Linked DNA regions of Homo sapiens. The protein of the gene in region 7 interacts with the protein of the main gene of each other region in a pairwise test. Each region holds a gene or a part of one and is shown on either strand. Other genes may lie near its edges. The genes, in order: SLC41A3, TMEM231, DRD2, CNTN1, HTR4, GABBR1 and GPR37.

Region 1 (4,011 bases), on a different chromosome or scaffold from region 7:
TCATCCCAAAAAATCACTCCAACGTAATAAGCCCTCTGTTGCTGTTCTCATGCACAATGTGAAGGCACTTTGGCACTGTTGGGGTGAGGACACGCTGGGTGGCCCACTGACATGCAAGGAATAAAGACATGGTCCCCTAAGGGAGCAAGGGAGGAGGGACACTGTGGACACGCAGGGGCTGCCTAGGAGCCTCTGAAGGCTGTTTCTTCAGTCCCTGCAGGCCAGGGCCTGGGGGCTAAACTGGACAAAACATGTTTTGTTCTTCTCCTAACTGATCACTTCCATTTACAGAAACTTATCAGACACCAGACACCAAGCTAAGCTTTGGTTAAAAGAGGGGTCATCCACACAAACCCCACAGGGTGTAGGCCTAGGAGGTAAGTATGTGCAGAGAGCCAGGTGTCAGACAACAGGGAAGGGGGAGATCAAGGCAGCTGGGAAGCACAGTCCTGGATCTGTCTCAGGCACTGCTGCAGTGCCCAGGGTAGAGACCCGGTATTTGTTACAGTCTTAATTTTTAAGAAGAAGAAATCCAGATTTTTAAGTGTAAATATCTGAGTTCTGATGTCAGCAATGAATCCAAAAAAGGAAAAAGAAAAGCCACAAGAGCCAGCGCCCCGGTTCTGAAGGCCATGCTCAATTGGCAGGTGCCATCGAGGCCGGAGTTTGACTCAGTGCCTGCAAAGCCTGGAATTCGGTCCTGTCAGGAGAGCTTATGTCCCAGGGCTGCCTGTGAGGAGCCGGGTCTGAGCTGCTGCGAACAGTGTGTGGGGCTTCCTCCCCAGGCTTCTTCCATCTGAGAAGACCTGCTCCAGCATCCCTGTAAGGCAGCAGTCTGTCCACGGCTCAGCTGCCCAACTGCCTGTGCGGGGCTGGTGCTGCCCCTCTGAGGTCTGCTGTTCCGGTCCAACCCAATCCTGTGGGCCTACCCAACCCAGGGACCACATGGGAACCCTTCAAATACGTACCACATATGACGGGGGTAAATATCGCCATGCCTTTGTACTGCTGTTTAGAAACGGTTTTGCTCAAGATGAGTCCTCCGAAACTGGGGAAATAGCAGACAGCAGTCAAGTTATCAGAGTTTACACTTACAGTGGCCCTGCAACTCTCCACACAAATCACCCTTTCAGCCCAGCTTCCCATCCTTGGCTGTCACTCTCCTCTCCCCTACACAAAATATCTGCTGCGGCCAAACTGGTCTCCCCAGCATCCTTTGCACCCTGCTCATGCTTTTCCATCTCCACTTTGAGCCTCAACCATTGCAGAAGGCCATCCGAGAACACCCACTTATTGCAAAACTAACAAATGCCTTTTCAAAAGCACACAGCTGGCTGGGCTGTCCCAAGACTCCGGCACCACGACTGAGATGCTCTTTAGCAGAAAACAGAACCTGCAGGAGGATCACCTCATGCCCACCCCATGTTCTCAGAAAATGCTGCAGCCAGACCTTGCTCCCACTGGCCACTGTAGTTTAGCAAAAGCTTTCCCACCCCTTGGGACTTCTTAGAGCCCTGGAGAAGCTAGGTCAATCTGTATAAGGAGCCCAGGAGCCTCCTGGAAGCAAGGATACCTACTCTATCGCCTCTTCTCCCCAAGACTCAAAGTTAGAAAAACTCATCAGAATGGACAGGGGTGGCCCCCATCAAGGTCAACTCTCAGGAAATGAGCCTTGAGAGGGAGCTGGAGGGTGGTGGACCTGGGCTCAGCTGAAGGTTCTAAGGCTCTGGAAGGGCGCTAACCCCACAGCTGTCTAGGTCCCACCAGTAGCCATGTGTGGCCAGTGACCAGGAGGACGAGTGAGTCAGCAGATGTGGCCTTGAGGCCAAGGTGGGGGACCTGCCACCTAAGCAGGGATCTGGGCCAGCAAAGCTCTAGTGGCAATGGCCTGAAAGCCGCTGTCTCCCTTGGGGCTCCAGTGCACTCCAGTGCCGGCCCCAGCTTTGGCTCTTCCTGGGTCCCTGGTGCTCTGGCAAATGTAAACAGGGCAGCCTCTCTTAGAACCAACAAGGCCCAGGGTTCTCAGTGAAAGGGAGAGAAGAAAGGAAAAAAGGTATGATTCAATCAGCAATGGGAGTTACTGAAAGAGCCCACAGCTACATTTCACTCCATTCCTGTCCCCCAAGGCAGTGAGTGTCACCCTGGTTCTAGGGGCCTTCATGGCTGAGAGGAGGAAGAGGGGCCGTGGCCCTGGCTCCTGCTCACCTGCTGATGACCATGGCCAGGATGATTGGGAACCAGCCAAACTTCAGGATCTTCACGATGGGTGGGCTCTGCTTGGCAATGAGGACCCACACTGGGGTCAGAGCCGCAAAGCTGAGGCAGACCAGCGGCGTCAGATACCGACTATCTGAAAGGAGAACAGGGACACACGCAGCTCATGTGGCCAAGGCCAGCACACACAGGCTGGGCCTGGGTTTCACAAATGAGAGGTGGGTGAGGACGCTCCTGTCCTCATCAGTTGAGGGGGAACTGCCTTGCCATACTTTTCACAGAACTTTCACCATCCCAAGAAGTAACTGGAAAAGCTCCTCTCTGTCCTCCATTCCTGCCACATTCAACTCCACTTCTCTGGCAAACTTGCTATTTTCCCCATATAAAGTACCCTGTTCTGCCTCCTCCCACCCTGATGCTACTGTCATAAATAAATAGAAGTACAATGTATGGAATGCACCATGAGCCAGCACTATGCTCAGTACTTCGGGTGCACAATCTCATCTCACCTTCTCGACAGCCCCTGCTTAGACAGGCAGCAGGAGGAAGCAGACGTGCAAAAAAGGGTGGCTGCCTAGACAGCAAGCAGCCCCGTCAGGGCTATGGCCTGGGTCCATGGAACGCCAGGGCCGGCTATGGGATGCCACCCATGGTCCTGGCTGAGGCCAGTCCCAGGCAACCAAGGGTCACCAGCCGGGTAGCTACTCGTGTCCCCATCTCATCTTCTCCACTGGCGAGAGGCCAGTGAAGACTGGGCAGGTGCTGGATCAGTCACTGCTGCGGGGGCCCAGGACAAGCCTGACACACTCGGGCATCTCGTGCATTCATTCCTCCCTTTCTGTGTTGTGCTCCGTGTGAGGGTCCCCCACAAGTGACAGAACAAGACACTGGCTTTCTCTAGAGTGGTCGTCTCACCCTCAGCCCCACCCTCTGGAGGGCAGGCTCACCTGCCAAGGGGGCCCAACACTCAGGGGTACCCAGGCATGGGTCTGTGTCCCATGTACTCCCTCTCTGGGGGTGTTATCAGGAACATCCGCTCCTTCCTTCTCTGCACTAAAGGGTTATGGCCCATTCCTCTGCCTCAGGTGCCCCAGACTGGCTACAGACAAGGTACTTTATGGTAGGAGGGCGTGGCCTCTGCAGGAGATATAAGCCAGGCCCAGCCACCTCTAACCAGGTCTCCCACCCTCTGGGAAACAGCGGCCTGCAGAAGCATCACCTTATACGATGCTTTTGAATCCAGTCTGAGTTTTCAGTTAGCTACTCACAAGCACCCCCAGGGCCTGCCTCATGCTTTCCCCAGCACACCTCCCCAATATGCAATGCCAATTCCCAACTACACCCAGCAGGTATTACAGTCAGCTGCTCACACCTCAGCGGGTCAAGATTTATCTAATACAGGCCAGTCCCAGTGACTCCTGAGTGCAACAGAGAGAAGGTCACAGTCTCACTGGAGAGACAGATGCCCCAACAGTGATTTTGTGTCTAAATCATAAGTCATGTGGAAATGAGCACACGGTACAGCCTGGGGCAGAGGCAAAGGTTCATGTGATGCCTGAACTCTCACTTATTTTGCAAATCCAACTCAAATAACCCATATACAAATCTTCTTGTTTTAAGTTTAGTTTAGCTTAAAAGTAAAGTTAGGTCATCTTATTCTTTCTTACAGATCTCCCTTGCCACTTAAGTAAACTTGGCGAATCTCCCTGGTGATTAAACATCACTGCTGGCAGGCAACACCAGGATGGCAAGAAGACAGTCCCAAAGCTGGGACAGAAAGGGTCCCAGTGCCCATAC
Region 2 (4,011 bases), on a different chromosome or scaffold from region 7:
GGGCCAAGTGCCCAGGCTGTTGGGTGAGGGCCAGAAAGAACCTGTTGTGACAATGCTTTCTTCCCCCAGTGCTGCTGAGGGGGCTGAGAATGAAACAGCCCCTCTGACTTCAGCCTGCCATCCAGGGGCACAGACAGAGGGAAAAATAGGGCAAAGAGCCCAGTCACAGTACGGCAAAGATCCAGGGCTGCTCAGCTGAGCTGATGACAGATGACTGACTGTTGGGCTGGGGCAGGTGGACGGTCCAAGTGTCCTTCAGCGGCCCTCCCTGATTGCCTGTGCTAATGCGGCCCTTGCCCTTGGGCCCTGCCCCTCCAGGTCTCCAGTTAAAGGCCTCAGCTCTGGAAATCAAAGCTGTGAATGGGAAATGGAGAAGCCCAGGGGTGCAAAGTGCTAGTGATTGGCATGTTTGTCACAAGAGAGCCCTGAAAAGAGTAAGAGTGGCTCACAACAGAAGGTAGAAATGCACAGTGTGTTCCTCAGTTCAACAGAGGAAAAGTCTCTGCTTGACCAGAGATGGGACTCTTTCCAAGATGTCTGAACTGACTGCAATTTTCTCCTGAAATTCAACGCTAAGGCAAAGAAGGAAAACCCAAAAAGCTAATTATAGCCTCCAGGAACTCTCAGACCTTTCCACAAACTAGTCCCTGACAATTCTGCAGGAGCTCTGAAGATACGGAACTGTGTAGAGCAAAACCGGAAAGAACCGTTGTCTCTGAGGGAAAAGCACACAAGCCCGCAGGTGTCCGCTGGGCTCTTTCAAAAGGTCCTAAGATGTTCCCAGAAGATGACAATGAGGCAGCCACGGTCCTGCTGAGTCTTCAGAAATGGCCTTTCTAGGATAAGTGCTCCTTACACAAGTCTCCCCGGGGCGTCACTGTCACAGGAATGGTGGTCACCACCTGATTCTGAAACACGAAGATCTTGATTCTTTCAAACACCCAGAGGAAGATAAGCAGGATGCTGACATACTGCACCCAGGCGAACTTTACCATCTCCCAGAATCCTGGCTGATAAGTATGGACAGTTAAGGAGTGAAGGGCCACATGGTGTTAAGTATGAAGAGAAAATCCAAGATGGAATTGGCTGTGGCAGAGGTATCTCGAAAGGAGGCAGGACCTCTGTCATGTACACACCCAGATGGAAGCTGACCTGAACTTGGCCAAATGGTAAAACCAGCCACATTTGATTTGAGCTATTTATATACCAAGCCTGATGACCAACCTCCTAAACAGACAACTATGCCAAACTAGATTGATCATGGACTAGAGATATCCTGAGCTGTTAACCAGCCATCCATCCATCTTCTAAAATCTTCCAGTTGTGTAAACTTGGAACACCCTTAGCCCCTGCCTAATTGCACCTGTACGGAACACAATTTAGCTGCTTCCTAGGTTTGTGTCTCTGGAATTGTAATTCCTAAGACCCCAGTTAAAATGCCTTCTCTTTTGTTTGCTTCTCTGCAGTGTTGGTGTTGGTTTCATTTTCCATTAGTCGACCTAAGTCAAAATTAAACCAAAGTTTAGGTCAGACAGGGACTGGCAAGAATGTTTCACATAACCTTAGCATAAAAGGGATATCATATGATTATTAAGACATAAATATGGATGATTCTTACCTAGAAGAATTGCTTGGAAACAAATAGGACCAAGACATGAATTATTTGTTCCTATATGAATAGCAGACATACAGTCATTTTCTGAGACATGTAGCCTAAGATGTCAAAGACGCAGCCATTTTTATGAGGCTATAACCCTGTCATGATTTCCAAGAGAAAACCTCCCACGTCTGTTACTACTTGAGACAACTAAGGAATCATTCCTCTTTGAAAACTGAGCTACCATTGATTTTTTTTAAATTGTTGTTTGCTTTAAGAGGCAGGGTCTCACTCTGTCACCGAGGCTGGAGTACAGTGGCACAATCATCGCTCACTGCAAGCTTGAATTCCTGGACTCAAGCAATCCTCCTGCCTCGGCATCCCAAGTAACTGGGACTACACATGTACGCCACTATGCCTGGCTAATTTTTTTTTTTTTTTTTTTGGTAGAGACAGGGACTCACTATCTTGGCCAGGCTGGTTGTGAACTCCTGGGTTCAAATGATCCTCCCACCTTGGCCTCCCAAAGTGCTGAAATTATAGGCAGGAGCCACCACATCCAGCCTTAACATGGACTCTTTAACAGAAAGGATATGAAATGACTTCCACAGGGTATCGGATGATAGCATTAATCACAAATGGAGCATCTGCGGCCCTGCCCACCAGCCAGATGGGGTTGGGATCATTCAGGACGGTGGTAACTGCAATGCAATCATTAACCATTAACCACGATGGCTGTTTGACTCTGGCAGTTGAAGGCTATAAAGATTATTTGATACCTGGAAATTATCCTGTGCTTCAGAACTGAAAGAAATCATTCGGAAGGAAAGAGAAATTGCATGTGCAAAGCTGATCACACATTATTTGTTAAAATAATAGTCAAAATACTTTTGTTAAAATACATAAAAAACTTGGAAAGAGTTTCTTCTACATGTGCTGAATGGCTAACTGAAGGAATACTATACTGCCACTAAAAGTAGTATCACAGCTTTGTAGCTGTGTGGGGAAGTATTTATATTCCAAGTTTAAATAAATAAAAGTAACTTGGATCCCAATGTGTTTCTACACTACAATGGCTGTATAAAAAGATCTGCAGAAGGCTAAAGAATGAAAGGAATGAAAAAATAGTTGATTTGTAGGGCAATGTTTTCTACTTTTGTTTTAAAATTCCCTCTATTATTGCAATAATGCCACTAGTATATGCCATAAAATCAGTAAGCAATACTGGATTTGCAGTCATCCCCCTTGTGAGACGTCTGTGTATAGTCTCCATGATGTCTGCTTGCCAAGTAACACTGTAGATGCTTTTAGAGAAAACCTCAGCCACCGACCAGACAAACGTGCCGAGTCCACACATGCCATGGCCTAGAGCTCTGTAAGGAATAAGCACACTGTGCCTTCTGGCAGGAAACAGGGGCACTCCTGTTCTCCTGCTGGACTGCTAATGTGGGGAGAGTCACCCACGTTCTCTGTTTTTCTCTGAAAAGCATGAACAGCAATTTGTCTTTGGCATCTGTTATAGGTGTGGATAGGTGTGGTATGGGGAACAACTCAATTAGGCTTATATTTTTTAAAAGAGAAACCCACTAAGCCAGTGGTGGGATAATGATGGCATTTAACCATCACTAGCCTGCTGGACCATGGGATGCTGGAGGGGTGGGGGCGGTCCCAGGTCTGAAGATCAGGACGAAAAAGACAAATCCTGGACAGCATATTTGCTCCCATCGTTGAGCATTCACGGGTTTTGACATTTTCATCACAAGGGTTCCAGTTCTGCTTGTCTCTGTTGCCCCCACTAACCTTGAAAGTCCTGAGCAGCGGCTGAATGGGCTCTACCTGTGACTCACCGTTCCTCTCCTGGTAGGCAGCAACAATATGGGTGAGGTCGTAGTCATAGGCAAAGGGGCTGGTCCCGTTGATCACGGATATCTGGGACACGGGAGGAGGATGTGGTGTGAGCACCTGGGAGACTCCTCCCCTTTTCCTTCTACCCTTCTGCCCACCCAGGCTGGTCCCACAGAGCACCCTCTTGTTCTTGGTGGCCTACTGCAGTATCAATAATCTTTTCTTCAAAGATGAATAAAACAGGCTGCTGCCCACCCAGGCTGGTCCCACAGAGCACCCTCTTGTTCTTGGTGGCCTACTGCAGTATCAATAATCTTCTCTTCAAAGATGAATAAACTCTCTTGCAACAATTTAAGCCCATTTACTCTCAGTCTTTCTTTCTGTGGATGGAAATAAGGGGTCAGTGTCCATGTTTTACAGGTTTTAAAGCTATTTTTAAAATACCCCTCTTTATCTCAGCGGGAGAAAGAATTCCTTAAATTATTTTAACAGACCGTATTTTCGCCAGGTGTGGTGGCTCATGCCTACAATCCCAGTGACTTGGGAGGCTGAGGCAGGAGGACCACTTG
Region 3 (4,011 bases), on a different chromosome or scaffold from region 7:
AGCACGTTTCTCATACACACATGCACACAGGCACACACACACACACACACACACACATGAACGCACCGCCCTCCCCCCTCCCCACGTAACACCCATTCACACACAGGCACACACTCATGGCAGATTACGCAGGCACACACTCACGGCAGCTGTCCCTAGCGCTCTGGAAGCTTGGAGCAGCCCCAGTTCCCTGAGGATGGAGTCAGGACAGGGAGATGCACCTTTGGCTTCTACCAATAGGAGCAGAGAGGAGCGTGAAAGCCCCCTCCCGCAACCCGGAGTAGGGCAGACTTCGTGTCACCGTGTAGCTTGGCAGCAGGGCTAATTATAACCTTGCTCATTCTGATCACTGCCCTCTCTTCTGCTCCTAGGCATCCAACCAAATGCTGGCATTTAAGCTCAATGATGGGCAATGCAGCTGCTGTCATCCTGTGTGGCAGAAACAGCAGCTTGCCCCAGAACACAGCAAGCCTCTCATGCGGCACTGTCTTCCTGGGAGCTCACATGGGGGCCCCGTACCAGGGCCTCTCTCCCAGCTCCCTGTGCTGCTGCGCTGACCAGTTTGGCAGGAGCTAACAGCTGGATGCCCATTTTGCGGGTGGAGGCAGGAGGGTACGTAAAGGGCTTTCCTGGCATAAACAGAGTGTGCCTTTAGGGTACCACTGGGCAGAAAACCAGCACTACCTGATTTACATCCCACTTTGAAGCCCCTCCTGGGACCAGTACTTGGGAGCCACTGGGGATCTAGGTTGAGATATCAGGGCCTTCCTCCCTGTCTTCCTCCTCTCCTTCCCTCCTTTCTGCCATCCCTTCTTTCCTACAAACACTTATTGAGCAAATTACTGTGTTCCAGCCTCTATCCTAGGCTCCTGGACACAGTTGTGAGCAATTCAGACACAGTCCTGCCTTCATGGACATCTTAAATCTCTCCTTGCACTGGCCTATCTGGAGCCCAGAATAACAAAGAGATTTCCTCTGTGGTCCCAGGGGAAGCTGCCTTGGAGAGTAGTTAGGGCTGCTAACTTAAAGACTCAAGAAAATGCATTGGTGGCCACTGTCCATAAGACATCTACTGTGGGCATTGCACTTTATCTCATGTATCGTTCTTAAAACTTTTACAAGAAGGGCTTGCTTATCCCACTCATAGGTGAGGGAACTGAAGCCCAGAGAGGCCATGTAACGTGGCCAAGTTCACCTGGCAGGTGTGCAGCAGAGCTGGAATCTGAAACATCACATCCCATGCTCTCTACTAAGCTGCCCTGGAAGGGACCATCTAGCTTATCAAGAGAGGAGATAATTAGGTGACAAGTACTTGGTAAGCATGAAATGTGAAAAGGAAAGATGATTATTTCAAGGGTGGACAAAACTAGGGAGGGTCAGAGAAGAAAACAGAACAAGATCACTTGGTGATTTAGTAGCAGAGGAAGGAGTGGCCCCAGGTTCCCTAGTCGAACCCAAGGCTCTTTTCTTCACACCCCCAGGCATCCAGGCATCATTCCTTAATGCTCTTGCTCACATAAAGCTGAGACCTGCAGTACAGGCCCTGAGCTGGCTCAGCTAAGTCCTAATAACTGTAATAATACTAAGGACTTACCATGTGTCAGGCACTGTTCCAAACACTTGATGCTTATATCTTAGAATGCAGACAGTAAGCCTCAGAGGCAAATGACATAACCACCTCTCCTCCATACCTCCAGCCAGCTACTCCCTCTCCCTGCTGGGTGGCTTTCTTGAGAATGCAAGTGTCTCCCTCCCTCTCCTGCATAATTTTTCCGAAAGCATCATTTCTCCCTGAAAGTCTTCCCTGACACCCTCATGCTGGGCCTTATGCCCCACACCTCCTATGGGGACTGCTCCACTGTCACCGGCAGCAGACTGCACTGTAGGGGCCCTGTCAACCTCTGCATCCCCAGCAGGTCAGTGCCTTAGCCCATTGCACAAGGATTGGGGTAAGACCTCGGAGTGCTCAGTCAGTGCTGACTGAGTGAATGAATAACTCTGAGATATTTGTTCATCTTCTCAATCTCCTCATCTAGAAAATAAATGCACACAGGAAGCCGCTCCTTAAAGGGTTGTGAGGCTGACATGGAATGGCACATGTGGACATCAGGAACTCTTCCAATAGCATCTAGATGGAAAGGAATGGAGCTGGGAATTGAACCTGGTCCTCTCACTCCAAAACCAGCGTGCTTTTCATACACTTAGCAAGATAAATAACGCACACTTAGTCCTAAGCCAGACAGATGTTGGCATGGCATTGCTGGAAATGGAACAGGAGGAAAAAATCTGGATGACAAGAGCATGTATTAGAGAGGGGACAGTGCGTGGTTGTGAGGGTGCGCTGATAGGACATCAGGGCAGGGTGAGACGTCACCTGGGACGTTCTCTAGGGACAACAAATCGCTGAGATAATGTCCATTAAACAAGGCTCAGTGCCCAGCTCTAGTTTGATGAGATGCTGTGGGGAAGTCTGAGCCCTGCCCTCTGAGAATGGCTTCTGCACCCTCCTCCCCTGACACACTCAGCTTCACCTTTAAAATAAGGTGAACAAGCATGTTTAAAGGATCTGTTCGAAAGACTTACAGATTCCTGGGAACCCCCTATAGCCCATGTATGGATTTGTCCCTACCCAAGTGCCTGGGTAGGGACAGGGGGTCTGGAAGCTAACAGAAGCCATGCCCAGAGCCCTGGGTAGAACACACGTTCCTCTGGGAAGAGGGTACCTACTTGCCTGGGGCGAACATAGGGAGTACTCTCTCCTTCCTCTTTATCCCAAGGGGGCGGTGAATAGGAAAGACAGAGTCCTCCCTATGTGGAGCAGTGCTGGATGTCTATTGTCATCTTCATCTTTATCATCATCGCCATGGCTGACATTTACACAGTGCTCACTGTGAGCCATGTATCATTCTAATCACTTTTCATACATCAACTAATTCGATCCTCAACAATGCTATGATGTATGATACTATTATTATCTGCATTTTCCAGATGAGGAAACTGAGGCACAGAGAGTTTGTTTGCTCTACCATTTTTCCCTATGGTCTGAGACCTAGGACCCTCCTTTGGAAGAGGGAAGAAGGAGGGGATCAAGCGTAAGAATTAAGAAGGCATGGACAGAGTCTAGGGGCCCTCATAAACATGGATCCAGGGGGAATTGGACTCCTGGCCTGTGTCAACTGAATATTTTTATGTGGTTTTGTATTTGTGTTTCCTTTTGGTTCTTCCTTAATATCCAGTCAGGTCATTTTGGAAGTTGCAGCCTGCATTGGCTGTAGTAAAGGAAGCCAAGGGGTGATGGATCAGAGCTCCCTTGGGCCCGGGGTGGTGGTGAGAACAGTAAGCGCACGAGCCCCTTGGGGGCCCAGGGACAGGGAGGTGTGCCACTTTCCACCAGTCTCGCCTCCTCACCTGAGCGTCCTCATCTAGATTTCTCCCCTGTTTAAACCTACAAAGCTTTCTCATTTTCTTTCAACAACCCCTTCCCTCTCAGGCAGGGATGGCCTCAGAGGCACTGGTCAATTCCTCTCCTGCTCAGGGAAGGAAGGTAACGGTTCAGTGGGCAGAGCACCGGCACTTTCCTAAATGCCTGATCCCATGCCTTCCCATGCACCTAGACTCCCAGATTGCTTGAGTCCTGGACATGCCATCCTAGAAAGCTGGGCAGAGAAAGGGGCAGGATCCAGCTTGTGCCCACCGATGATCCCTAAATGCTCCCACATCTGCTCGCTGGCTCTGAAGGTGTCTTCCTGGAGAATAATATCTGCTTTGGGATTTCTCCATCAGCATTTCTCCCTGTGACCTGGGTGAAGAAAGGCAACTTCTCCAAAGCTTCTATTTCCTATTTTGTTTTTGTTTTAATTTAATTTTATTTTTTTTTTGAGACAGAGTCTTGCTCTGTCGCCCAGGCTGGAGTGCAATGGTATGATCTCAGCTCACTGCAACCTCTGCCTCCCAGATTCAAGCAATTCTCCTGCCTCAGCCTCCCAAGTATCTGGGATTACAGGCATATGC
Region 4 (4,011 bases), on a different chromosome or scaffold from region 7:
TTAACTTTAAAAGTCAGTGTGTTCAGGGAAGCCCCTGATGTCCCTGCCCTCTTGCCCCATTCCATAAACAGCCGTGCCTGTGCTCATCCTAATAAGAGGGCTGTGCTGGCATATTCTCAATTTATATCAATGTCTTACAACTTCAAGTTCTAGTTTAGATAGCATGAATATATTTTTGCAGAAGGTCACTTTAACTTTACCAAGCTTTAGACACATCAAAATATGGATGATAATTCCCATGTTACTTTATTGGGTTACTGTGAAGAAAATAATGTATTTTCTACATCTGAGTAATAACAGTCTTTCAAATGACAAAAGTGATCCTTGTCCTCCCTTGTTTAAGACTTTAAACAGATTTATATTACTCTTAGATGAAGCCCAAGCCCCTTAGCATAGAAAACTTTGTCATTTATGATGTGGCTTACTATGTCTCATCTCTTAAAAGTCTCCTCCATTTTCCTCTAAAGACAAATCACACTGATTTCAGTTTCTGCAATTTCTTACACATTCTAAACTCCTCACCATAGGGCCTTTGTACATGCTGCCCTCACATTCACATACACCCTCACATACACCCTCACATACACCCTCAAGCCAACCCACACATCCCATCCCTCCCATTTCCCATCCTGGCTTTCTCCTCGTCATAATTTTTGCACTCAATATTACTTCTTCTAGGATACATATAAACTATTCAGTGTGGCTTTTATACAAATAATCTATATAAGTTGTACACTGCTTTTTCATTTTGTCCCCAAACCACCAAAACATTGGTAGATGGTCCATTTATAAGGAAGATGATGATAACATCTTGTTCATTTTGAGATAGGAAGAGATTATTTGCACTTTGAAATCACCTTTTTATTTTTCTACAAAAATATTTAATAGGCTAACTGCACAAAATTCAGTTGAATATGAATGGATATAGATGCCAGATGCCTATACTGGGGAAAAATATGTTAGAGAGATCCTACTTTATTTCCCATTGTTTATTAGCTGTGTGACATTGGGCAATTTATAACAACAAGACAACAAAAAAACACCTCTGAGCTTCAATTTTCTAAATTCCTTATACATTATAGAGTCCTGTTAATTAAACCTTCATTATAATAGATACTGACAGGGATAGGTATTTCTGTCCATCTTAGAACTACAGGATCTTCTGTGAAAAAAAAAATTCAGAGCAAAAAACATTTTCATTATTAACATATAAACAAGTCTTCTATAAAATAAACTTTTTCAAACAGATTTTGCAATTGGATTTCTAGTTTCAGCACTGACCTGCTGCTATTGACAAGCCACTCTGTCCCTTTACTCCATGAAAACTTTGGTTTCGGTGCAGCTTTAGGTTTGCATTCAATTATCACCCTTCCACCTTTAGCAGCCAGGATCTTTTTCTTCATAGGATTCATTTCAAAAGTTGGAGCCAACGCTAAAAAGAAAACAAATTGTTATCTTTCTCTTTCTGTTTGTAAAGCCTAAACATTGCTTCTGTGTTGTAGAATCTTTTATTCTCCTTAATAGTTAATGGAAAGGATTAATCTCGGTAAATATGATCAGCTGTCACCAATAGGCATTCTATACCTAATGCTTTGTAACTTTTATTTAATAACTTTGACTTATAAAATTCACCCAATTCAAATGTACAATTCTTGATGATAACTGAATTGATTATTAGAAACTTTAATTAGAATCCAGGCATGGGTGGCTCACACCTATAATCCCAGCAGTTTCAGAGGCTGAGGTGGGCAGATGGCTTACCCAGGAGTTTGAGAGCAGACTGGGTAACACGGCAAAACTCCATCTCTACCTAAAATACAAAAAAATTAGCTGGGCATGTTGGTGCATGCCTGTAGTCCCAGCTATCCAGGAGGCTGAGGTGGAGGATCACCTGAACCTAGAAGGTCAAGGCTGCAGTGAAGCGTGATCGCCTCACTGCACTCCAGGCTGGGCAACACCGTGAGACCCTGTCTCAATAAATAAATAACTTCAATTTCAATCAAATGTTTTATACACATTTACCTTAAAATTAACTCTGAATTCTGTTGCTTTGACTCAATTCCACAAGGAAAGTAAAGTGAAAGGCTGGAAAAAATTGACCAGCATTATACACACTGACATATGGTCCTAGTCAATCCTCTAAACCACATGTTGAATGAACTATTCCCAGTTTATAAATGAGAAAATTGAAATCTATTAGGATTATTTAATTTGGCAAAGGTACCACAGGTAGTAATAAGTGGGAGTCACATTTGAATCTAGGTCCTTCTGTTTCCAAAGCATGTACTTTTCATTAAACAATGCAGTCTCTCCTTCTTTATACAATTACTGAGCATCATCTGTATGCAAACACCCTGCAAAATGCCAAAATAATTGGAGTCCTGCTTTCAGGATCTATCTATAAACAGCTATGGGAATAATGGATCTAATCAACTAATTAAGGAGACATGATCATTTGTAGTTCATCATTACCTCCAAGTACAGAGCAATAATTATTAGAACAGAATACAGAGGCTTAAAAAAGGTTACTTCATTGATGTCATGCTCAGACTTTCCTCAGCATCCACACATTTAATCCACTGCTCACTCTCCTCTTCCCTTGGCAGACTCCAAGCAGATTTCATCCATATATTTCAACACATTACAATCATCCGTAACTATGTACTTTCTGGAGGCTTTTCTAGGCCTAAGCATATCTTCATCTGGGTTTTGACTCTTCATCCTCTGGTCTGGTCATTCTCAAAATTATCTTTGTATTAAAATCATCTGGGTATCTTTTTAAAGTGTCCATTCAGTAGGTCTGGGGTGAGCCTGGGATTCTGCACTTCTAATGTGCTCCTAGGTATGGCCACTGCTGCTGATGCTCTGAAGAAGACTTTTGTTGTGGCAAAGATTCATTCTATTCCATTGTTTCGTTAGTCTGAATTATGATAATTAGCAATAAATAAATCAGTAAACAACCAACATATGTTGTACACCTAACACAATACTGGGTATTTTGTGTAGGCTCAATAAACATTTTGTGTGATATGACATATTGCTTTAACAATGTTTAACAGAAATTAGAAATGATACTGACCCAAGATCTTCAACTCAGCATTTGCATAAATGGCTCCATATGTGTTTTCAGCTATGCACTGATACATTCCGGCATTTTCAAAAGTCACATCATACAGTCTTAATTCCCCTTTATGATACTGAAAAGAATAAAATTGAAACATATTCTCAATGAACTTTAATAGAAATACTTTCACTTAGGTCTGGGTTTGGTTGTCTTTTCATTTAGATACATTATGTTCATCTGCCCCCACTGTTACCTAAGATGAACTGAGTGGGATTTTCATGGCATGGGAAAGGAAAACCCACTTACCATGCCCAAAGGCTCTTGTTCTATTCATCCTACAGAGCTGAGAGTCCACCTTTTCCCCTCTTGGACCAGCTGGGAGATTACAGTGGGAAGGTAGAGAAGAATCCCACTGCTGCTACTTGTCCCCAGGGCCAAAGGTAGGACTTAGAGCTTCACTCTTACCTCTGTCTCTGTGGGGTACAGGAAAATAGTGGCAAGAAAAAGAGGACAATATCAGGTATTGGAGATGGATGAGTAGGAAGAGGGTGGAAAAGTGGAACAAAGGAAAAAAATAAGGAGAGAGAGAGAGAGAAGGTAGAGTAAGATTACAGAAAGTTGTTTAAACTGAAAGAAGATACTTTATGTTCAGTTTTTGTCTTTTTTAGGAAGCTTTTATATTTCAGGGCCCAAGTGCCCTTTCTGTATTGTCTCTCCTGCTAAATTTATCCCAGGACTACCCTGAAACACTGCTTGAACAGGGACTCAGGAACAGCAAAGCACTTGAACATACATACCGCATATCCATTTTTCAACCATCGGATTGTAGGGATGGGCTTTCCTGTGGCCACACAAGGCCAGTAGAGATCACTGCCTATGTCCACCTCTGTGTCATTGATGTGTTCTACCCACTCAGGGAATGCTAAAAAGTAAGGAACATTGTAAAT
Region 5 (4,011 bases), on a different chromosome or scaffold from region 7:
ATCAAGCAGACCTAATAGACGTCTACAGAACTCTCCACCCCAAATCAACAGAATATACATTCGTCTCAGCACCACATCACACTTATTCCAAAATTGTCCACATAGTTGGAAGTAAAACACTCTTCAGCAAACGTAAAAGAAAGAAATTATAACAAACTGTCTCTCAGACCACAGTGCAATCAAACTAGAACTCAGGATTAAGAAACCCACTCAAAACTGCTCAACTGCATGGAAACAGAACAACCTGCTCCTGAATGACTACTGGGTACATAACGAAATGAAGGCAGAAATAAAGATATTCTTTGAAACCAGTGAGAACAAAGACATGACATACCAGAATCTCTGGGACACATTTAAAGCAGTGTGTAGAGGGAAATTTATAGCACTAAATGCCCACAAGAGAAAGCAGGAAAGATCTAAAATTGACACCCTAACATCACAATTAAAAGAACTAGAGCAGCAAGAGCAAACACATTCAAAAGCTAGCAGAAGGCAAGAAATAACTAAGATCAGAGCAGAACTGAAGGAAATAGAGACACAAAAAACCCTTCAAAAAATCAATGAATCCAGGAGCTGGTTTTTTGAAAAGATCAACAAAATTGATAGACCGCTAGCAAGACTAATAAAGAAGAAAAGAGAGAAGAATCAAATAGACGCAATAAAAAATGATTAAGGGGATATCACTACCGATCCCACAGAAATACAAACTACCATCAGAGAATACTATAAACACCTCTACGCAAATAAACTAGAAAACCTACAAGAAATGGATAAATTCCTGGACACATACACCCTCCCAAGACTAAACCAGGAAGAAGTTGAATCCCTGGATAGACCAATAACAGGTTCTGAAATTGAGGCAGTAATTAATAGCCTACCAACCAAAAAAATCCAGGATCAGATGGATTCACAGTCGAATTCTACCAGAGGTACAAGGAGGAGCTGGTACCATTCCAATATCCCTGATGAACACTGATGCAAAAATCCTCAATAAAATACTGGCAAACCAAATCCAGCAGCACATCAAAAAGCTTATCCACCATAATCAAGTGGGCTTCATCCCTGGGATGCAAGGCTGGTTCAACATATGCAAATCAATAAACGTAATCCAGCATATAAACAGAACCAAAGACAAAAACCACATGATTATCTCAATAGATGCAGAAAAGGCCTTTGACAAAATTCAACAGCCCTTCATGGTAAAAACTCTCAATAAGTTAGGTATTGATGGGACATATATCAAAATAATAAGAGCTATTTATGACAAACCCACAGCCAATATCACACTGAATGGGCAAAAACTGGAAGCATTCCCTTTGAAAACTGGCACAAGACAGGAATGCCCTCTCTCACCACTCCTATTCAACATAGTGTTGGAAGTTCTGGCCAGGGCAATCAGGCAGGAGAAAGAAATAAAGGGTATTCAATTAGGAAAAGAGGAAGTCAAATTGTCCCTGTTTGCAGATGACATGACTGTATATTTAGAAAACCCCATCGTCTCAGCCCAAAATCTCCTTAAGCTGATAGGCAACTTCAGCAAAGTCTCAGGATACAAAATCAATGTGCAAAAATCACAAGCATTCTTATACACCAATAACAGACAAACAGAGGGCCAAATCATGAGTGAACTCCCAATCACAATTGCTTCAAAGAGAATAAAATACCTAGGAATCCAACTCACAAGGGATGTGAAGGACCTCTTCAAGGAGAACTACAAACCACTGCTCAACGAAATAAAAGAGGACACAAACAAATGGAAGGACATTCCATGCTCATGGATAGGAAGAATCAATATCGCGAAAATGGCCATACTGCCCAAGGTAATTTATAAATTCAATGCCATCCCCATCAAGCTACCAATGACTTTCTCCAGAGAATTGGAAAAAACTACTTTAAAATTCATATGGAACCAAAAAAGAGCCCGCATTGCCAAGTCAACCCTAAGCCAAAAGAACAAAGCTGGAGGCATCATGCTACCTGACTTCAAACTATACTACAAGGCTACAGTCAGCAAAACAGCATGGTACTGGGACTAAAACAGAGATATAGACTAATGGAATACAACAGAGCCCTCAGAAATAATACCACACATCTACAACCATCTGATCTTTGACAAACCTGACAAAAACAAGAAATGCGGAAAGGATTCCCTATATAATAAATGGTGCTGGGAAAACTGGCTAGCCATAGGTAGAAAGCTGAAACTGGATCCCTTTCTTACACCTTATAAAAAATTAATTCAAGATGGATTAAAGACTTAAATGTCAGACCTAAAACCATAAAAACCCTAGAAGAAAACCTGGGCAATACCATTCGGGACATAGGAATGGGCAAGGACTACATGTCTAAAACACCAAAAACAACGGCAACAGAAGCTAAAATTGACAAATGGGATCTAATTAAACTAAAGAGCTTCTGCACAGCAAAAGAAACTACCATCAGAGTGAACAGGCAACCTACAGAATGGGAGAAAATTTTTGCAATCTACCCATCTGACAAAGGGCTAATATCCAGAATCTACAAAGAACTCAAACAAATTTACAAGAAAAAAACAAACAACCCCATCAACAAGTGGGTGAAGGATATGAACAGACACTTCTCAAAAGAAGACATTTATGCAGCAAACAGGCACATGAAAAAATGCTCATCATCACTGGCCGTCAGAGAAATGCAAATCAAAACCACAATGAGATACCATCTCACACCAGTTAGAATGGCAATCATTAAAAAGTCAGGAAACAACAGGTGCTGGAGAGGATGTGGAGAAATAGGAACACTTTTACACTGTTGGTGGGACTGTAAACTAGTTCAACTATTGTGGAAGACAGTGTGGCGATTCCTCAAGGATCTAGAACTAGAAATACCATTTGACCCAGCCATCCTGTTACTGGGTATATACCCAAAGGACTATAAATCATGCTGCTATAAAGACACATGCACACGTATGTTTATTGCGGCACTATTCACAATAGCAAACACTTGGAACCAACCCAAATGTCCATCAATGATAGACAGGATTAAGAAAATGTGGCACATATGCACCATGGAATACTATGCAGCCATAAAAAAGGATGAGTTCACGTCCTTTGTAGGGACATGGATGAAGCTGGAAACCATCATTCTCAGCAAACTATCGCAAGGAGAAAAAACCAAACGCCGCATATTCTCTCTCATAGGTGGGAATTGAACAATAAGAACATTTGGACACAGGAAGGGGAACATCACACTCTGGGGCCTGTCGTGGGGTGGGGGGAGGGGGGAGGGATAACATTAGGAGATATACCTAATGTAAATGACGAGTTAATGGGTGCAGCACACCAACATGGCACATGTATACATATGTAAGAAACCTGCACGTTGTGGACATGTACCCTAGAACTTAAAGTATAATAAAAAAATAAATAAAATAAAATGGTAATTGTACTCATACCATATAAGTTTCTTCAAAAAAAAAAAAGAAATTTATGGAAGAAAATATGGAGTGTACATCCATATGCCATCTCTAAATTGTCTCTTTGCTTTACAATGATCCTGCAGATTACCAGACGCAGCAGGATTTTAACAATACATCTTATTTAGTAAAATAGGCTTTCTTGGGCTGCCCTGGAAACTCCCAAACTCTCTATGAAAAAAACCATCAACTGCTAAACAACTGACTTAGCAAATGTATTACCAGAGCATACGCTGTTTGTAAGTTGTCAACAGCCTGTACTTAGGCAACTGCTAGATTAAATAGCTAAAAACTATTTGGCACCCACACAGAAGTTCTTGTACACACACTTTATGGTTGAATTCTTTCTATGACACTCCTGAAGGCATAATAATTAAGAGAGAATGTCGGTTTCTAGGAGTATCCTTTGGGGTCTTTCCACCAGCTGAAACCACAACACCATGCTAGGCTTTAGCTACAAATCTGCCTACACTTGTAGCAAAAAATGGAATTCATGCTCTGAGCAGCCTCTGAGGCACAGGATTTATATTTTATAGCAATTCTTATTTTTCTTTTCTTCT
Region 6 (4,702 bases), on a different chromosome or scaffold from region 7:
TAAGTCTTTTACCCTAATATGTTTCCACCCCCAGAGCTCCCCTTCTCAATTTTTCTTAGTAGAATGTTTGATTTATTTCTGAGTCTTTACAATAAATCAATTATATAAGGAATGGTGAGGGATGAATTCTAGAAGAGGGTGATGCATGGAAATTTCTAAGTTTAGAGAAAGGGAAAATTGGAGTATTTAAACCTGAAGAAGGTGAGAGAGGTGAGATTCATAAAGGAAAAGAGAAAACGTGAGGTCTAAGAATCGGGAGCAGGAAGATTTTTTTAAAAGGTAAAGGAAGGAAGCCCCCAACCTACAGAGGATACCGGGGACTGCAAGAGGAAGTTTGAGGCAGGTGATGGAGGAAAAAGGGACTTTCATCTCCCCTTTCCAGTGTCCTCCCCCACATTTTTATAGCTCTCCATTCTTTCCCATTATCCATTCCCACCCCACTCCCATCCTCACACAAGCGTCCTCATCAGCTGCATGCAGGCAGCTGTTCCCCTCACCCTGGCAGTGGGGCTTGGGGGTGCTCCACTGGCCCTGACTACAGATGCTCCGGGAGCTGCCCACCAGATGGAAGTCGGGGTCACACCGGAAATCCACCCGGGCTCCGTCCAGAGCTGGGAGGTCCCCACCCGTCAGGAAAACCTTCCCATTTTCCAGGGTCAAATAAGACTTGGAGCAGATTCGGACTGTGGAGAGATAGGAAAATAAGAAGAGAGGCGAGTTGAAGAAGGCTCTTTCCCTTTAAAGAGCAGGGGACTCAGGTGCAGGTTTGGGTCCACAAGCATCCTGCTCTAAAGAAAATCACATGTGAAAAGGATTTGCCTACCTATCTTCCAATCCTCCCTTACCTGTGCAAGCATCCACACATTCCCAAAAGAAAAAAAAAATTACCATTTTAGGAACCCAAGATGGGGCTATAAGCACACAAAATGGGATCTCTTCAAAGTCAGCTACAGTGGGCGGTTCTCTGGCTTTGAAATATGTAGATGTATATAACTTTGGATGCACAATCAGATTTGCTTTTCTTATTATAGTTGGCTTCTATTAATATTAAACTGGCTTTTGTTTCTTGGGCATATGGTCTCTGGGTTGGTGACAGAGGTATTCAAAAATGTGATGAAATCATTTTAGAATTTTTTTGTCATCATCTGCCACTAATGATCCTCAAAGAGAATAACTGACAAGATGAATTATCAATGTTATAGGCCAATGATCAGTGGCCTAATGAAGGGAGGATGAAATGAACTGTGCAGGCTGCTAGCTCTACTACCTCCAACCGCACAGAGCAAAATTGCTCTTATGTAGTAGTCATTCAATAAATGTATTTGTGAATTTTGGTATACTGGATTTAAAGTGCTGACTTGCAAGCAGTAATGCTAAGTTTGCGGCAGGAAAAGGAATAGTCTTGAAGAGGGGAGGGGCTTCCGAGGCTACTCACCACAGCGGCTGGGTGTGTCCATATCTGTCCAGGAGCCGTTGGCCAGGCACTTGCGGACCTTGGGCCCCACCACCTCGCGCTCCCCCCGGCACACATACTCAATCTCATAGTCCACTGGCAGGAAGTTGATAGCCTTCACCTGGTCCCGAGTCAGGCCCCGGTACCTGATGCCCCCTTCCCAGGGCGGGTGTATGATCTGGCAACCTAAGGGGTGAGTCGGGGAGGCATACAGAGAGGAATGGTGGGAAAGAGGAAAAGGCAGGCTCCCCAGTGGGAGGAAGGGGAGAGTAGGGCGTGGTCTGTGGGCAGGCTGGGGACAGAGGAAGAGGGATGGGGCACTAGAGGGTGGGAGTGGGGACAGGTACAGATCCCCTGGCTAAAGGACAGAGAGTAAAGGGCCAGGGTTAAAGCTGATGAGAGAACCCACAAGTGGGGAGGGAAGGGTGCTGGGTGGAGGTAAGAAAGAAAAGTAATTAAGAAATCATGAAGGGTATGATATGTGGGTGGAGCTTTTCTTTAAAAAAAAAGGCTAAATGAGGATATTCGAGTTGAATTAGGATAGGAGGATAAAGGGAGGCTAATAAGATCATCTGGACAGCAAAGTGGGACCAAGAAAAGGGAGTAATTGAGGTAGTAATGTGGGGCTGGGAAAGGGGATTGAGGCGGAGAAAATGCACAGGAAGGTGGTATAGTGTAGCAATGTGGGCAGAGAAAAGAGGTGCTGGATAGTAACGTGGGGTGACAGAAGGAGGTCAGCAGTAGTAAAGTCGGGCCGAGCAGAAGGGGTTGCCAGACCGGGATGATATGTGGGACTGATGGGATAGTGATGAGGACCAGAAATGAGGAGATGCAGGGAAAGGGAAGTGGAGCGAAGGAGGGCCGGAGGTCGTCGAAGAAGGATGCACCTTCTGAGGTGGCGTTGGGGGTCTGCGCCCCGCCCGCGCCCGGGGGGCGGAGGAAGAGTGGCGCCAGTAGCAGCAGCAGCAACATCTAAGTGAGAGGCGGCCATGAGGACTGGACCGAGCCCCGCCGGCGCGGCCCGCACCCGGAGACTACTCGACCTCTTGCCGGTTGCCTCGCAGGCTCCGACCGGGCTCAGCCTGGGGACCAAGAGAGCGCCCCGCGGAGGAGGCGGGGGCGGAGCCCCGCGCGGGGTGGGGGGAGAGGAGGAGAGAAAGCCTGTCCCCACCCTCCTCCTGCCTCCCTCGGCCCCCAACCCTCCCGGGACTCCACCTCTCACCACCTCCTCTCCCCCGGCCCCCGCGGCTCGCAGAAGCCTGGCTTACCCACGCTCCCGGCATCGGCCGCCTCAGCGCTCCCCGATTCCATCCCCGCGGTTCCTCCTCTCCCCCAGCCCCGCTTCCCCCAGCTGGGCCCTGCGCCCACTGCCCCCTCCCCCACCACGCCGCGCGCCCCCTCTCCGAGCCCTGCTAACCCGGGGCCCTGGCTCTTACCTCGGCGCGCGGGCCCGGCTCCCCGGCTCTCCCCGGGCCTCAAGGCCCCAGGCCCGGCCGCTCCTCCCCGCTCCCCCCTCCCTTCTCCTCCACCTTTCTCCTCCTCCCGTCCCTCCTCCCCTCGAATCCAGGCTCCAGCCTGGCCAGGGTCTCTCCCCTCCTCTCTCGCTTCCCCCAAACCCCACCCCTGTCTCTTCTTCCCCGGGGCGGCGGCAGCCACGGGAGCGGGGAGCGGGGAGCCGGGAGGGAAGGAGGCGGCGCCGGGGACCAGGGAGAGCTCCCGGGCGGAGGGAAGAAGGAGGGTGCAAGGGAAGGCAGGGCGGGGGGAAGAGAGGGGAAGACCGGGGAGAGGGCGCCTCCCACAACCCGAGCCCCGGGAGCCGCCCCGGATCCCAGCCCCGCCCTGGACCGCCCACAGCGCGGTGGGGCGGGCGGTGGAGAGGCGCGGGGCTGAGAGGTGGGGGAGAGGGAGGTGCCCTGGTGCACACGCACTCGTCGGGGGGCGCCGGTCACTGCCGAGGGACCTGCGGGCCAAACAACTGGAAGCTGGGGTGGGGGAGAGGGAACCCGAGCCAAAGGCAGAGGAGCTGGCGCTGAGACAGGGAGTCTGGGATGAAGGTGGAGAAAGACGGCTGCACAAAGAGAAGGCAGCCCTAGATCCGGGTGAGAGGAGAGAGGCAGAGGCAGATGCCCAGGAGAACTGCGACCGGAGGGCGAGAAAGAAGCCTGGGTCAGAAGGAGGTGGGGGAGGGGGACTGAGGACCACCTAAGCGCAAGAAGGGTTGGGTGTAGAAGAGATTTCTGGGAGACTAGAGCAGCTCCATGGTCCAGCAGCATTGCTACTCGCCTGCTCTGCAGGGAACGCGCAGAACGGATTGGAGGCAAAAAACAAAACAGGGAGGGGGACATCAAGGAGAGAAATTGAAGTACGAAGGGAGTAAAAGGACAAGAGAAAAGAACCTCAGGGTGGTTTAGAAGCCAGTATTACCTGATGTACTCCAGCAGAGCCTAGCAAACAGTATTTCTTGACCAAGGGCAAACTGGAAGCTCTAAAGACAGCAGGTACAGACCTTTTTGACGGCTCCAGAAGCTCTTGGCTATACCTTGAAGTGGAGGGGTGTGTGTGTGTGTGTGTGTGTGTGTGTGTGTGTGTGTGTGTGTGTGTGTTGTGCTGTTGTTGTTCGTAGGCCTGAGTTTGGGCTGGGAGAGGAAACAGTGGGCTCCTTGTTGGGGGGGACAAAAAAAAAGCTGCTTTCTGGCTGGTCCTAGGGGGAAAAATGGTAGGAAGAAACCAAACACTGAGAGACTGACTAGAATTGAGATTCTCAACCTCCAACCCTTTTTTACAATAAATATTTTGTAATGACACTTTTACTGTCCTAAATTGAGATTCATAGATGAGGCTCACGCCTGAAATCCCAGAACTTTGGGAGGCCGAGGCGGACTGATCACTTGAGCTCAGGAGTTTGAGACCAGCCTGGCCTGGCCAGCATGGCGAAACCCCATCTCTACTAAAAATAGAAAAATTAGCGTGGTGTGATGGTGTGCGCCTGTAATCCCAGCTGAGACACCAGAATCGCTTGAACCCGGGAGGCAGAGGTTGCAGTGAGCCAAGATCGCACCACTGCACTCCAGCCTGGGTGACAGAGCAAGACTCCATCTCAAACAAAAAGAAAGGGAAGGAGGGAGAGAAAGTCATAGATGATATAACCTACCTACATACACAACTTTAAACAGAAAGCAAAATGCTTCCCTTTCTGTAACGTAAAGGGGAAATGAAAGAAAAGTAACTTGCAATAAAATAACATAAACA
Region 7 (4,011 bases):
ATTCACTTAGGAATCTAACAAGTGTTTAAAACCAAATAATTTGGGCCAGGTGTGGTGGCACACCCCTGTAATCTCAGCACTTTGGGAGGCCTATGCAGGCAGATTGCTTAAGCCCAGGAGTTCAAGATCAGCCTGGCCAACAGGGCGAAACTCCATCTTTACAAAAAATACAAAAATTAACGGGATGTGGTGGTGCATGCCTGTAGTCCCAACCATTCAGGAGGCTGGGGTAGGAGGATTTCTGGAGCCTTGGAGGTTGAAGCTGCAGTGATCCATGATCATGCCACTGCATTCCAGCCTAGGTGACAGAGTGGGACCCTGTCTCAAAAAAAAAAAAAAAAAATTCAAATAATTCAGACATCAAATATGGCAACTGGAATGAATCTTTGCTCATTATTTAATGGAAGTCAGAATCAAGGTATCATCTGACCGAGATCCCAGATAACAGATTAAGGTCTGTTTGGACATTAATTGGAGGTTTTGAATGATCGAGATTCTCTTTAGTTTAAAGAACCCACACCTTCATGGAGTGTTGTAGAACAGAAGGCTTCAAATAATTATAATGAGATAACCCCAGATCTAACTGTATTTTTATTTTACTGGGATAAAACTCCTGCACAGAGGTGGAGAGAGAATAAAGGGAACATGTCTTACCATGGCCTCTGGTCTGGGAATAATTTGTGACAAGTCTAGAATCTTTTCTAATGAGAGGAACCAGCTTCTCCAATGACTTTAGCAATACTGGTTTTAAGTTGAGTGGAACAAATGGCTCTTTCATTGCCTTAGATTGTAGCTAGCACTGACAAGAAAGAAAGGGTTTTTGGAGGTTGAAGATGACAGTGCCATACAACTATCTGAGTCTACACAGATTTCCCTAGAACGCCTGTATTCAAGTAATAGAACATTTATCATGGCATATGGTAAATTTTCTTTGAGAGGTGGATTAGTCATTAGGTATTCTGCCGGACTTTTAAGTGGAAACTTACTGTTTTATGAGCAATTTTAAAGTTACTAATAGTATTCTTAGGGAAAATGTGCTCAATATATGAGAATGGTGCTGAACAAATATTTTATGACTTCCCATTAATCTTTTAGTAATCATTTTATATATTCCCATGCAAATGAAAATATTTAGCTGATGACTCTAACAGGAAGAAAAGTGTTTCTTAGAGTGCACTTTTATTTATAACTCCATTTCTGAATGGTGTATGGTGAAGTTAACTGAATTTGGATCTTCCACAAGAAAGAAAAGTTTTATAATATTCAAATAAGAAATCCAAATAGTTTCCTTTTCCATTGATCATAATGAGAATGTGTCCTTTTCTAAAGCTTGTCAATGAAGTATAAATAGGAAAATTGATTTTTTAACTTCCCTTCTATAGATATTGTCTGGCATTCAGCTTTTAAGGATTATATATAAAACAGCAGCACCCAATAACTGATTAAAGAACAATTTGAATAATTTATTATTTTCTGTAATCCTTTTCCATAGGTGTCATCATTCGTTCATTTGTTCACCATTCATTGATTTATCAAATGTTTACCTGGCTTTTCTTCTATGCGAGGTACTATTAGGAGTGGGCAGGAGAAGGCAATACAGGAAGAGGGGGAAAAGTTTCCAAAGATGAATATCATAGATGAGCCACTGCCATTAAAATTACAGAAAAGTAAAGTAATGTTCTACACCATGATGAATATTATAATAGAGGTTTGAACAAAGCATCGTGGAAGCTCAGAAATGGCACTGAAATGGGTCAAGTCACAGTTGTGCTTGTTATGACCAGAGATGGAGAAATTAAAGGGAAAACTGTGCTCCCTCTAATTCTTTTCAGTTACATTCTTACTATTAATCTTCATAAATTTCATAAATGCCTATACAGCCTAGATCCATGATGAAAAGTTACAAATGTGAAAATCTTTTAATTCTTGCTTTTTTGTTTCCTTTAGCTTTCCCAGGATAGAAAGTCCATAATAATAATTGGCAAAATAATTCAGCAAATAGTTCAGTTCTAGAAATTTCTTTTAAAATATGGAATTTGTGCCAGTGCCTAGGATATCTATCTCTGCTTTACAATTAGTCCTTATTAGCTATAAGGACACTAAATACGTCAAAATTAAACATTTTATTTAAATGAATGGCTTATTTGGCAATGTAATAACAGTATATTAAATTGAGTCCTTTTCTTCTGAAAAAATCAAAACATATACAAATTGTTTAACTTGACCTTGGAGAACCTAAGAAAGAAGATGGACAAGGGCGATACTTTAGACTCCATTGTGGAGTCGAGGAAAGGGGAGCACGATGAATGGACTTTCTCAAGAATTGGATTAATCTCTCAAGCACATAATCAGAGTGAAGATTTATTCTGAGCTCCTGAGGGCTCCCAAGGTATCCTGCCATGTCAGCAAAGTATCCTTCCACAGAGACAAGGAGGCAAATGTGTCTGCAGAAGTAAAACAGATATGAGCTTATAAGTTTACCGAAGGCTGAGTGGGTGAGGGTCTACCTTTGCTTTCATATTTAGGCTGCATGGACCTTGATACAATTTTTACACCTTTAATGGCATTCGTCTTATGTGCGGCAACCTTTTAACAGTATCCCATTGGAAGCACATGGACCTGTGTCTGGGATGTAGATTGTGGGAGAGGGATGGGAAGGCAGCTATGCAGTGCAGTTTGTCTCTGCCTCTGCACTTCTGCTCCATCCTCCAGGGATGCGCCTGTCATTTCACTTCCCATGAATTGACCTGCCAAGGTCCAATAATGAACTCAACCTTGTTGCCAAGACTAACTCTTAAATATCCTAATTGGAATAATACTCTTTGTGCCAGAAGAGATGATCTCATCCAAAATTTCAGAGTGGAGTTGAGAATGGGATTACTGCAACGTCAAATATGGAGGGTCTTTTTTTATTTGCAGAGTAAGTGTAGGTACTTTTCATAAACTTCCATAAAACGCAGGATATGATCACTGTGTCAGTCTTGTTCTTGAGACAGAATACTTTCCATTTGTGAATTTGTAATAGTTTTCAGTGTTATCTGTCTGTACACTTGAATAGTTCATAGCATTCATTAATGAGGCCAAGGTCATTGATTTGATCCCTGCCTAGAATGAGACATTCTTATTAGGTCTGTGACTCTATTCAGGGATGTTACTTTTTTCTTTTTTTCTGTCAAAATAGCCCCTTCCTCATCAATTCCCATCTTCAGGGCCTATCTTTACTATTGTCTTCCTAATTCAAATCCTTTTTATATCGGAAAAGCATCTGATAAGCCAATTCGCATCAAGATATGCAATTTAGAAATAACTGCCTTTTATAAGAAGATTGAATCAAGAAAGAAATTTCCTTAACAGACTACCAATAGTGAAATTTTGGTTAAAAGCAGATAAATTCTGTCCTAAAATATGGTTTCTCAATTTTATTAAAATCATGATGACCTAACTATACATAATTTTGTTTTTAGTTTGAGTTCACAGTCATGCAAATCAATATCATTAGTCAGAAAGGGAAATAGGTAAAAATGTGTTACTGCTTTTTGGAAACTCATCAGAACCCCAAGGTAAGGAACTGAAATTCCAGGTCACTTTAAGATTGACTAGGAACATCATAATAATACCAAAGATTGAGAACTGGACTGTGGGCTTGGGGGAAATATTACATTTTGAAATGATTTTGTAATTACTGAGAATAAACATGGAATCTTTAGAATCTAACATAGATGGTTTATATCTTAAGACAAAATGTTGCTAATCTTGCTTCATTTACATTTTTATTTTAATAAACACCTGACAGATTGATAGGAATTATAACATGTTAGGTTGTAGTTAAATGAATTTTTTTAACCATATAAGGAATGTACTGTGCTATAGACATCATAATTGGTAACAAACCTTAATTCAAGATAGGACTATAAAGGAAAAGAGGATTTATGGAATCAAGACAAGTTTTGGGAGAATATGTTGATTTTTAAATAGTCTTAAACGGCTTTTAAAATAAGGAAAGCGTGGTAT

What was found.
Region 1: the proteins of GPR37 (region 7) and SLC41A3 interact in a two-hybrid assay, tested with the Homo sapiens proteins (one large-scale study listed by BioGRID and IntAct).
Region 2: the proteins of GPR37 (region 7) and TMEM231 interact in a two-hybrid assay, tested with the Homo sapiens proteins (one large-scale study listed by BioGRID and IntAct).
Region 3: the proteins of GPR37 (region 7) and DRD2 interact in a two-hybrid assay, tested with the Homo sapiens proteins (one large-scale study listed by BioGRID and IntAct).
Region 4: the proteins of GPR37 (region 7) and CNTN1 interact in a two-hybrid assay, tested with the Homo sapiens proteins (one large-scale study listed by BioGRID and IntAct).
Region 5: the proteins of GPR37 (region 7) and HTR4 interact in a two-hybrid assay, tested with the Homo sapiens proteins (one large-scale study listed by BioGRID and IntAct).
Region 6: the proteins of GPR37 (region 7) and GABBR1 interact in a two-hybrid assay, tested with the Homo sapiens proteins (one large-scale study listed by BioGRID and IntAct).

The regions. Positions count from the first base shown.
Region 1 is NC_000003.12:126,014,526-126,018,536, forward strand, and holds part of SLC41A3 (solute carrier family 41 member 3), read right to left. Parts: intron 2,351-4,011; coding exon 2,206-2,350; intron 1,049-2,205; coding exon 969-1,048; intron 1-968. UniProt on the Homo sapiens protein: Na(+)/Mg(2+) ion exchanger that acts as a predominant Mg(2+) efflux system at the mitochondrial inner membrane.
Region 2 is NC_000016.10:75,539,158-75,543,168, forward strand, and holds part of TMEM231 (transmembrane protein 231), read right to left. Parts: intron 3,527-4,011; coding exon 3,445-3,526; intron 2,299-3,444; coding exon 2,193-2,298; intron 1,018-2,192; coding exon 837-1,017; 3' UTR 1-836. UniProt on the Homo sapiens protein: Transmembrane component of the tectonic-like complex, a complex localized at the transition zone of primary cilia and acting as a barrier that prevents diffusion of transmembrane proteins between the cilia and plasma membranes.
Region 3 is NC_000011.10:113,419,416-113,423,426, forward strand, and holds part of DRD2 (D(2) dopamine receptor), read right to left. Parts: intron 1-4,011. UniProt on the Homo sapiens protein: Dopamine receptor whose activity is mediated by G proteins which inhibit adenylyl cyclase. Positively regulates postnatal regression of retinal hyaloid vessels via suppression of VEGFR2/KDR activity, downstream of OPN5.
Region 4 is NC_000012.12:40,936,756-40,940,766, reverse strand, and holds part of CNTN1 (contactin-1 isoform 1 precursor), read right to left. Parts: intron 3,987-4,011; coding exon 3,862-3,986; intron 3,198-3,861; coding exon 3,080-3,197; intron 1,433-3,079; coding exon 1,282-1,432; intron 1-1,281. UniProt on the Homo sapiens protein: Contactins mediate cell surface interactions during nervous system development.
Region 5 is NC_000005.10:148,504,133-148,508,143, forward strand, and holds part of HTR4 (5-hydroxytryptamine receptor 4), read right to left. Parts: intron 1-4,011. UniProt on the Homo sapiens protein: G-protein coupled receptor for 5-hydroxytryptamine (serotonin), a biogenic hormone that functions as a neurotransmitter, a hormone and a mitogen.
Region 6 is NC_000006.12:29,629,961-29,634,662, forward strand, and holds the start of GABBR1 (gamma-aminobutyric acid type B receptor subunit 1 isoform a precursor), read right to left. Parts: upstream 3,224-4,702; 5' UTR 2,890-3,223; intron 2,823-2,889; exon of another isoform or gene 2,737-2,822; coding exon of another isoform or gene 2,722-2,736; intron 2,426-2,721; coding exon 2,341-2,425; intron 1,642-2,340; exon of another isoform or gene 1,640-1,641; coding exon 1,436-1,639; intron 1,430-1,435; exon of another isoform or gene 684-1,429; coding exon 498-683; intron 1-497.
Region 7 is NC_000007.14:124,755,399-124,759,409, reverse strand, and holds part of GPR37 (prosaposin receptor GPR37 precursor), read left to right. Parts: intron 1-4,011.